2 separate regions of the Homo sapiens genome follow, and region 2 is linked to region 1. Evidence: fine-mapped expression QTL. Tissue or cell type: whole blood. Region 1 holds a variant in brackets; the other region holds the start of a gene. All regions are shown on one strand. Distances are from middle to middle.

Region 1 (5,868 bases):
ATCCATGGGTACTTATACAGGCATTGTTTCACATAGATGACCACATGCAAGACTCACAACTGCACACACATTCATATCTACACAGTCAGCAGGGCTACACACTCCCATACACCCAGATACACAAGTGCAAACCACAGAAACCACTCACTGAGTCCTGCAGTTTTGCTCTCACACAGGAAATACCAGATGTGCACATTGTCACCGACTGTTGCTCACCTATAGTCACATCCATTCACACTGTCACACACTCAATTTCTTCTCTCTGCTCGGAGATTCGCCCCAGCCCTGGTCACATGAAGCTACTGGATGGGGGGGTGTTGGGAGTGTGTGTTGGGGATGAGTTGTTAGAACCTCCCAGCTGTGGACAGCTTCCCGGACACAGGATGGAAGGACCACGGGCTGCCTGTCTCTTGAAAGAGGCTCGAGAAAGACAGGCAAGAGAACCCCAAGGGAGCGGGGAAAGGAACGGGAGGGCTTTGGGGCTGTGGCTTGAGTGTGAACAGATTGTCTCCCCTTGTCTGTCTGTCTCCCCTGGTGGGGACCCCAACCGCAACAATGCACCCGGAAATCCGGCAGTCCAAGGCAGAAACGGCAGGCCAGCGAAGTGTGTGCTTGTCCCTATTTTGGTTGTGATGGTTTGGGGGGGATATGAGACAGCCACAGCGCGGGAGGCGCTGGACAGACGGACATGCCGGGGAGGAGGGGGCGCAGACGGACAGATACCCGAGCGGAGGCGGTCCCGGGGCAGACAGGAGGAGCGGGCGACAACAGACGGCGGCTGTCTAAAGGGAAACCGGTAATTTGGGAACCCGGTTCTCCCCCGCTTCCATCACCGCAATCCCCTCCACCCCCCGCCCCGGGCTCCCGGCGGGCCGGTCTGTCCGCCCGGGCCGGTCCTGGCTGCGCCCTGTGCGGCCGCGCCACCCAGCCCGGGACAAACAGCCCTCGCGTTGCTAGGCGACGGCGTTCCACAGTCCGTCGCGTCACCGCGTCTGCGCGGGCGTGGGGGGGGGGGGGGGGGGCGGGCGCACGGAGACGGCGGCCGCGTCGTTTGTTGACGTTGCCCGGCAACCGGCGCGGCGCTGCCGGGCAACGCCGGCCGACTGTTCATTCTCTCTCTCTTTTTTTTTTTTTTTTTGAGACGGAGTCTCGCTTTCGCTCTGTGGCCCAGGCTGGAGTGCAATGGCGCGATCTCGGCTCACTGCAACCTCTGCCTCCCGGGTTCAAGCGATTCTCCTGCCTCAGCCTCCACAGTAGTTGGGATTACAGGTGCGCACCATCACGACCAATTTTTGTATTTTTAGTAGAGACGGGGTTTCGCCATGTTAGTCAGTCTGGTCTCGAACTCCTGAACTCAGTTGATCCACCCGCCTAGGCCTCCCAAAGTGTTGGGATTACAGGCGTGAGCCACCGCGCCCGGCCTGGACTGTTCATTCTCTTAAAGGAGCAGGAGCATTTTACAGCGCCGACCTCGGCCGGCCGCGTGGCGGAACTGAGGCGTTAGAGGGAAAGAAGAGGGTTCCTTCCCTGGCTCATGAAGGTTTAGGGGATTGGAGGCTGGGTTAGCCTTCTTGAGGAAGAGAAAAGATATAAGGCGGGAGCTCTGGGTATTTCAACTAGAGTGTTTGGAGATGTTAGTGCAATATTGATTGCACGTGTGCATAGGCATGCTTGTGGACCTGTATGCATGGGAGTAGGTGATAGAGATACAGGGCTAGCAAGGACTGGGTTTAGTTACCCACTCCGGAACCTTGACCTGTGACTTCCTCTGAGCCTCCTTCCTTCCTGAAATGGAGGTGATAACATCACCCACCCCTAGAATTGTGACCATCAAATCCGGTAAAGCACTTAGTACATAATAAGTGCTCCGTATAAAATAGGTTTAATTATGTTATTTAATAACTGGATTCTGTCCCTAACTCGCTGGGCTTTTTTTGTTTTGTTTGAGATGGAGTTTTGCTCTTTTTGCCCAGGCTGGAGTGCAATGGCATGATCTCGGCTCACGGCAACCTTTGCCTCCCATGTTCAAGTGATTCTCCTGCCTCAGCCTCCCGAGTAGCTGGGATTACAGGCACCCGCCACCATGCTGGGCTAATTTTGTATTTTTAGTAGGGACGAGGTTTCACCATGTTGGCCAGGCTGGTCTTGAACTCCTGACCTCCAGTAATCCACTCACCTCGGCCTCCTAAAGTGCTGGGATTACAGGCGTGACCCACCGCGCCCGGCCATTTTGTTGGTTTTTTTTGAGACAAGGTCTCATTCTGTTGCCCAGGCTAGAGTGCAGTGGTATGATCACAGCTCACTGCAGCCTCACTTCCTGAGCTCAAGCAATCCTCCCGCCTCAGCCTACCAACTAGCTGGGACTATAGGCACTGGCTAATTTTTTAATTTTTAATTTTTATTATTTTTTGTTTTTAGAGACGGGGGTCTCATTATGTTGCCCAGGCTGGTCTCGAACTCCTCCTGGGCTCACCCAATCTTCCTGCCTTGGCCTCCCAAAGTGCTGGGGTTGCAGGCGTGAGCCACAGCGTCCAGCTCCTCACTGGGTTTTGGAATACATAAGACGGTGTTTGTAAAGTACTTACTGCAGCCCGGTGCACTCAATACACAGCAGTCGTTGTATTACTAGAGGTGTTTTTATTATTGTTTCCTCCACTCTGTAAAGGATCACGTGATAAGGCACTAGCAGATGTGGTT[G/A]GAATCCTTGCTGTGCTGAATCCTGGCTGTGTGACCCCAAGTAAGTGCCTTGCCTTCTCTAACCCTCTGCTTCCTCTTCAGTGAAATGCATGATCCCTTATCCTTCACAATCACTTCCAGGTAAAGGTCCTGGGCGAGGGGTCCCCTCTCACTGGGCATGTCAGGTCAGTGCCCCGTGTCTGCCGCATGACTCACAGGGCTACGTTATGTAAAGCTCCTTGATTCTGCACAGAGGGCAGGTTATATAAACGTATTTAATGTGCATCCTACATATCAAGCCTGGGGAGGAGACCTGGCTTGGTAAGGCTGAGATTGCTAAACCATGGCACTGGCTGTTTCTGGGAAGTAGGGCCTATTAAAGCATGGGCCAAGGAGACGGTATTGTCTCCTTCAAAAGAAAATACATCTCTCCTGGGGCGGGGTGGGGGGTCTTTCTAGGCCCCCAAATAGCTTTTTGTCTTTCTCAGCCTCTGATGTGTGTTTATCTCTCTCTGCATTTTTTTTAAATTAATAAAAACTTTTTTTTAAATAAAGATGGGGTCTTACTATGCTGTCCAGGCTGGTCTCAAACTCCTGGGCTCAAGAGATCCTCCCATCTCCGCCTCTCAAAGTGCTGGGATTACTGGCGTGAGCAACTGTGCCCAGCCTCTCTCTTCTTTTTTTCTGAACCCTATCTCTGATCTCTCTGTCTCTGTCTCATCATCTCTATGTATCTCTGTCACTTTCTGCTTTTATTCCCGTGAGTCCCTTTCTGGGTCTCTGTCTCTGTTTGTGATTTTCCTTTATTACTTAACTCTCCCTCAGGTTGTTTCCAAACATTCTTAGGAGAAATCTGAGTAGCACCAAGCCCCTCGCAGCTGACTGCTGTGTGATGTTGGGGTGAGCTGTCTGCTCTCTGGGCCTTGACTCTTCTCTGTCTGTAAAATCAGATGCAGTAACTAGTACAAGCAGGCAGGGGTCCCAGTCACTGGGGAGTATTTTAAAGGTGGGTTCCTCCAGTTCCACACCCACAAGCTGTGGGTCAGAATCTCAGAGAAAGACGACCGGGCGCGATGGCTTATGCCTGTAATCCCAACACTTTGGGAGGCCGAGGTGGGTGGATCACCTGAGGTTAGGAGTTTGAGACCAGCATGGCCAGCATGGCGAAACCCCGTCTCTACTAAAAATACAAAAATTAGCCAGGCTTGGTGGCATACACCTGTAGTCCCAGCTACTTGGGAGACTGAGGCAGGAGAATCACTTGAACCTGGGAGGCAGAGGTTGCAGTGAACTGAGATTGTGCCACTGCACTCCAGCCTGGGTGACAGAGCAAGATACTATCTCAAAAAAAAAAAAAAATCTCAGAGAAAGAAGCCCAGAGAATTATGCTATGTGAGTTACTCCCCAGGTGATTCTGAGCAACCAGCCAGAATTGCCGACCTGGGGCTGGACACACCTGTCCAGAGGCCAGGTTCTCATGGTACATAATAGGTGAGGTCCTATGGAAACACACAGCCAGGGACAAGAGTCATTCTGCGGCAGTTAGAGGATCCTGAGTGTGGAGGCGTGAGAGAGACAGAGCTGGGTCAGAGTGAGACAAAGGTCAGAGATAGAGACAAGAAAAGAAAACAGAGAGATACAGAGACATAAAGAGATAGACGCCCGGCACAGTGGTTCACGCCTGTAATCCCATCACTTTGGGAGGCGGAGGCAGGTGGACCACCTGAGGTCAGGAGTTCAAGACCAGCCTGACCGACATGGTGAAACCCTGTCTCTACTAAAAATACAAAATTAGCTGGGTGTGGTGGCACGTGCCTGTAGTTCCAGCTACTCAGGAGGCTGAGGCAGGAGAATCGCTTGAACCTGAAAGGGAGACGTTGCAGTGAGCCTAGATCCCGCCACTGTACTCCAGCCTGGATGACAAGAGCAAATCTCTGTCTCAAAAAAAAAAAAAAAAAAAAAAGAAGCAAATCTGTGTTTTCTGCACACTGCCTGAAAATGCATTCCCAGAGCAGAAGGCCACATTTCCGTGTGTATGCGTGACTGTGTTTCACATGTTGCTGCACGTAGTGCTGGGGTGTGCCAGGCCTAGGCCGTGATTGGATGTGGGAGCCAGATGCTGGGCTGGGAGGTTCTGGGTGGACCCTCTGTGCCTGTGCCAACCTGCCTCTAAGCAAGTGTCCTGGGCCAGCATTCTCCCCATCTGGCTCCTACTTTCTTTTCTTTTCTTTTTTTTTAGACAGAGTCTCACCCTGTCACCCAGGCTGGAGTGCAATGGCGCGTTCTTGGCTCACTGCAACCTCCACCTCCCGGGTTCAAATGATTCTCCTGCCTCAGCCTCCTGAGTAGCTGAGATTACAGGCGCCTGCCACTGCGCTCAGCTAATTTTTGTATTTTTAGTAGAGATGAGGTTTCACCATGTTGGTCAGGCTGGTCTCGAATTCCTGACCTCGTGATCTGCCCGCCTTGGCCTCCCAAAGTTCCGGGATTACAGTTGTGAGCCACCTCTCCCGGCCCAGCTCCTACTTTCTACACCGGCTCCATGTGACTGATGAGGACATGGCTCCGGGAGTCCTGGGGCCCACATGGATGAGTACAGGTTTAGATGTAAATCTAGGCACTGAGAGTGTTATGTTCGGGTGTGTGGGCTTGGGAATAGCCGTCCCAATAGAGGGGTACCATCTTTGGAGCTAGACTGAGCCGTGAGACCTTAGGCAAGTTAAGCGACCTCTTTGGGCCTCAGTTTGCACATCTGTAAAATAGGGATGTTAACTTTTATGGGGATGTGGTGAGTACCACCTAACATAATGGAAAGTGCTGCCATCTACTGATGGCTTGCTATGAATGTGCTTGTCAGCAAATTTTGCCTCTCTTAACTCAAAGGCCTCCAGAATCGATCCCTACTACCTCCTAGTCCAAGTCACCATTGGACTCAACTGGACCATGACAGTGACTGGTCTCCCTGACTCCACACTTGTCCTCCAAAGTCTATTCCCCACCTACAACCCAAAGGACCCTGTTAAAATAAAAAACAAGCCAGGCGCGGTGGCTCACGCCTGTAATCCCAACACTTTGGGAGGCTGAGGTGGGCAAATCACCTGAGGTCAGGAGTTCGAGACCAGCCTGGCCAACATTGGGTTGAGTGAAACCTCATCTCTATAAAAATGCAAAAAAAAAATTAGCCAGGCGTGG
Region 2 (4,934 bases), 25 kb after region 1:
GAGACAGAGTCTGGCTCTGTCACCCAGGCTGGAGTCCAGTGGCACAATCTCGGCTCACTGCAGCCTCCGCCTCCCAGGTTCAAGCGATTCTTCTGCCTCAGCCTCCTGAGTAGCTGGGACTACAGGTGTGCGCTACCACGCCCAACTAATTTTAGTATTTTTAGTAAAGACGGGGTTTCACCATATTGGCCAGGCTGGTCTTGAACTCCTGACCTCGTGATCCGCCTGTCTCGGCCTCCCAAAGTGCTGGGATTACAGGTGTGAGCCACTGCACCGGGACTCTAATTTTGTATTTTTAATAGAGATAGGATTTCTCCATGTTGGTCAGGCTGGTCTCGAACTCCTGACCTCAGGTGATCCACCCGCCTAGGCCTCCCAAAGTGCTAGGATTACAGACATTAGCCACCATGCCCAGAAAAAAAAAATTAAGTAAAATGGGAAAATGTAGACACAGATAGACACCCATAGATGAAAGACTGATGTGAACAAAGAAACAGAGGGATGTCATGTACATGCAGGCAAGAATAAATAAAAAGATCAATGAACATAACAGAAATGTCAGAAATAGACGTGTGTGTATGGGAATTTGGTATGTGATAAAGGTAGAATTTCAGAACAGTGGAGAAAAGATCTACCTTTGGTCAACTTGAGACAATTGGTTACATCACTCATAAACAACGACCTCGGTGCACTTTCAAAAATAAATCTTGGCCAGGCACCGTGGCTCATGCTTGTAATCCCAGCACTTTGGGAGGCTGAGGTGGGCAGATCACTTGAGGTCAAGAGTTCGAGACCAGCAGGGCCAACATGGTGAAACTCCGTCTCTACTAAAAATACAAAAGTTAGCCTGTAATCCCAGCTACTTGGGAGGCTGAGGCAGGAGAACTGCTTGAATGTGGGTGGCGGAGGTTGCAGTGAGCCTAGATTGCTCCATTGCACTCCAGCCTAGGCAACAAGAGCAAAACTCCATCTCAAAAAATAATAAATAAATAAATAAATCTTACATAGATTAAAGCCAGATGACCTGCTCATTCTAGGTCATTACTGTTTGGGACCGTGTCTGTGTCCCTCACTGAACTGTAAGCTCTGGGAGGACAACACGGGGCTTTTATCTTTTACGTAGATAAAAGAAATGATAGAATATATCATTATAGCCGTGCACTGTAATCCCAGCACTTTGGGAGGTCACAAAGTGACCTCAGGATCAGCTGAGGTCAGGAGTTTGAGACCAGCCTGGCCAACATGGTGAAACCCCGTCTCTACTAAAAATACAAAAAAAAAAAAAAAAAAAAAAAATTAGCCGGGCATGGTGGCACATGCCTGTAATCCCAGCTACTAAGGAGGCAGGAGAATCGCTTGAACCCGGGAGGGGGAGGTGCAGTGAACTGAGATCGCGCCATTGCACTCCAGCCTGGGTAATAAGAGCGAAACTCCGTCTCGAAAAAAAAAAAAAAAAGAAAAAAAAGAATTTATCATTATGACCCTGGGTTATGGCAGGGCTCTTAACACACCAAAAGCAAAAGTCAGAACGGAACAGATTGATAAATAGTTGCGCATAAACACAAATAACTTCTGTGCCAAAAATAACTAAAGTTAAAGCCCAAAGTAGAAACTAGGAGGAAATGTTTGCAATATGGGTAACTAAGGATTAGAATCAGAATCCATAAAGTACCCCTAGAAATTAATAGTAATAAAAAAGCCATACAACCCATTTTAAAAATGGACAAGGAATATGAGCAAGCAATTCACAGAAGACAAAATTTACAAGACCAATACTTTCACAAAAAACATTCCATTTCCTTAGTAATCAGAGAGCTGCAAGTTAGAACAGTGTGATACTATCCTTTCAGGAAGTGACTAATACTAACTCATCAGCCAGGCCCCTGCTCAGATGTCCCTTCCTCCAGGAAGCCCTTCCGGACTCCGGGGCTGAGTCAGGCGCTCCCCCTGACCCCCATCCCACGGCTCTCCCGGGATCTCCCATCCCAGACCTGCCCATTCTGGGTCAGCACTGGGAACGTGTCTGTGTCCCTTACTGAACCGTAAGCTCCGGGAGGACAACACGGGGCTGTCGTTGGTCACTGCTGTGTCACCAGCACGGACTCGCACAGGACCGGGAAGAGAGGAAGCGCGTGGGGGGAATAGGTGTGGAATAAATGAATGAATGAGGAAACTGAAGCCAAGTCAATGTCTGAGTTGGATTCAAACTTAAGTCTCTCCTTACTGAGAGGAGGGACCAAGTTGGATCTCCTGCGATCTGTTCTCCACTGAGCCCTGCCAGGATTCTGGGCACACAGAAGCGCTCAGTAAGGGCTTTGAAACTTAACAGTTTGGGAGCCAGATCCTCAGGCCACATCTCTCTCCTCCCACGACCTCCGCGGTCCTCCAGAACCATAGAGAGTTGTACAGAGATCGCCCTGCTCTATGCTCTACTCTCCTGGGGAGCGGGGCCAGAGAGGCCGGAAGTGCTGCGAGCCCTGGGCCACGCTGGCCGTGCTGGCAGTGGGCCGCCTCGATCCCTCTGCAGTCTTTCCCTTGAGGCTCCAAGACCAGCAGGTGAGGCCTCGCGGCGCTGAAACCGTGAGGCCCGGACCACAGGTGCGGGAGGCGGAGACTGCGGGTGGAGATTGGCGCCGCGGAAGCCAATCATTGCCGAGTCTGAGAGATGGACAAGGCCAGGCGTGGGGAGGGCGTCCAGATGCTAGCCTCGGGGGCCGGACGAACGGAAGGCGGGGGATGGTGGGGACGGAGCCAATAGAATCCGGTGGGGGCGAGGGGCGGAGCGATGGGACTTGTGGACCTGTAAGGGGCGGGGCGAGCCGAAGGTGGAGGTCAAAGGGGCGTGGCGTTACAGAGCCTCTAGCGCTGGGTGTTGGGGACCTGACGCTATGGAGCTCTCGGAGTTTTGTGGGGGACGGCTGTGAGTGGGGGGTTCCTGCTGCGGGATGAGAACGTAGACGCCAGTGGCTCACTCGCTCCTGGCACCTTCCCTTTCAGGCTCCAGATGGACCCTGGGAAGGACAAAGAGGGGGTGCCCCAGCCCTCAGGGCCGCCAGCAAGGAAGAAATTTGTGATACCCCTCGACGAGGATGAGGTCCCTCCTGGAGTGGTAGGACAAGGAGATGCGGGGCCCCTGGGAGGCTGGGGGCTGTTAGGACGAAGAGGATAGGATGGGGCCTGTGGGACCAGGGTGTGGGTTAGTGGATTTGGGGGCCACGGACGACTTGGGGAAACAGTCCTTGGTCCTCCCCAGGTCCCAGTTTCCCCATCTGTGAAATGGATGGGTGGTTCTAAGAGAGGGCTAAGGCAGAGGCCAGACACTGGCATTCAGCAGGTAGCCCCTGATGTGTTTTACGAGGCCAGCACCCTGATTTTTCAAGACATGAATTTATTGCTCGTGTTTAAGAATCGCCAGGTTTTGCAATCTTAAAAAAATCTACACTTTAGACATATTTTGGTAAATGGAAGGACCTGGCAATATTGAAATCTCCTTCCCAAGGGAAAACAATCGACGGGTGATGAGCATTGGCTATGAAGAAAAGGAAAGTGGGCTAAGGATGTAGGGCATGATGGGGGAGAGGACCTTCCTACTCTATTTATTTATTTATTTATTTATTTTTTTGAGACAGAGTCTCGCTCTTTTGCCCAGGCTGGAGTGCACTGGCACCATCTCGGCTCACTGCAACCTCTGCCTCCTGGGTTCAAGCGATTCTCCTGCCTCAGCCTCCCGAGTAACTGGGATTACAGGAGCGCGCCTGGCTAATTTTTGTATTTTTAGTAGAGACGGGTTTCACCATGTTGGTCAGGCTGGTCTCGAACCTCAAGTGATCCGCCCACCTCGGCCTCCCAAAGTGCTGGGATGTACAGGCATGAGCCACCATGCCTGGCCCCTTCCTACTTTAGATAGGAAGGTCAAGGGAGGGCCTCTCTGAGGAGGTGACATCTTGGTAGAGACGTGAAAGAGGTGAGGGAGTGAGCCATGGCGACATCTGGGGTAGAGGGAACAGCCAGTGCCAAAGCCCTGAGGTCAGAGAGAGCCTGCCGTGTTCAAGGGCAGAACGAAGTCTGGTGGGGCTGGAGTAGAGAAAGCAAGGAGAAGTGGTAGAAGGTGTAGTTTCTGAGGCAAGGAGCAGGGACAGATCTAGAGCCTTGTGGGTGATGGTGACAGCTTTGGCTTTCACTCTGAGGCAGGAGCCACCCACCAGCTCTGAGCAGAGGAGGGACATGAGGACTTAGTTAGGGGACAGACTTCCAGGGGGCGAGGGTGTGGGCAAGGAGCTGGTGAGGAAGTGACTTCAGTGGTCCAAGGGTGAAACGCTGGTGGCTGGGACCAGAGTGGAGGCTGAGGAGTGGGGGAGAAGTGGCTGAATTCAGATTTTGAGCTCTCAGCCTTCTGGAAGGGACATTAGGAGGAAGGAGGATGGGCAGCCCTGAAGAGGGGAGAGGGGTCAAGTGCTGTGGCTCACACCTGTAATCCCAGGACTTTGGGAGGCCGAGGCGGGCGGATCACCTGAGGTCAGGAGTTCGAGATCAGCCTGGACAACATGTTGAAACCCTGTCTCTACTAAAAATACAAAAATTAGCCAGCGTGGTGGTACACGCCTGTAGTCCCAGCTATTTGGGAGGCTGAGACAGGAGAATCGCTTGAACCTGGGGGGCGGAGGTTGCAGTGAGCCGAGATCACGCCACTGCACTCCAGCCTGGGTGACAGAGCAAGACTCCATCTCAAAAAAAAAAAAAAAAAATTAGCTGGGCGTGGTGGTGGGCACCTGTAATCCCAGCTACTTGGGAAGCTGAGGCAGAATTGCTTGAACCCGGGAGGTGGAGGTTGCAATGAGCCAAGATAGTGCCACTACACTCCAGTCTGGGTGACAGAGCAAGACTGTCTCAAAAAAAGAAAAAGAAAGGGGAGAGGAACTCACAGGGCCTCAGAT

The links. PIP is the estimated chance that this variant, and not a neighbour inherited with it, causes the effect.
Region 2: it holds the start of ERCC1, and the variant in region 1 is fine-mapped to the expression of ERCC1 in whole blood (TOPMed, PIP above 0.99).

What each region holds. Positions count from the first base shown.
Region 1 is chr19:45,446,042-45,451,909 of GRCh38, reverse strand. It overlaps a transcript of ERCC1 not described here. Among named protein-coding and RNA genes, the nearest start is that of MIR6088, 12 kb to the right of the region's middle. RefSeq lists silencers at 712-761, 922-1,051. The variant G/A (reference allele first, on the strand shown) is at 2,698.
Region 2 is chr19:45,421,445-45,426,378 of GRCh38, reverse strand. It overlaps ERCC1 (ERCC excision repair 1, endonuclease non-catalytic subunit), which reads left to right and starts at 2,462. Exons shown (of 10, transcript NM_001983.4): 1 at 2,462-2,598; 2 at 2,998-3,109. The coding sequence starts at 3,005. RefSeq lists enhancers at 1,734-2,028, 2,277-2,326, 2,387-2,476.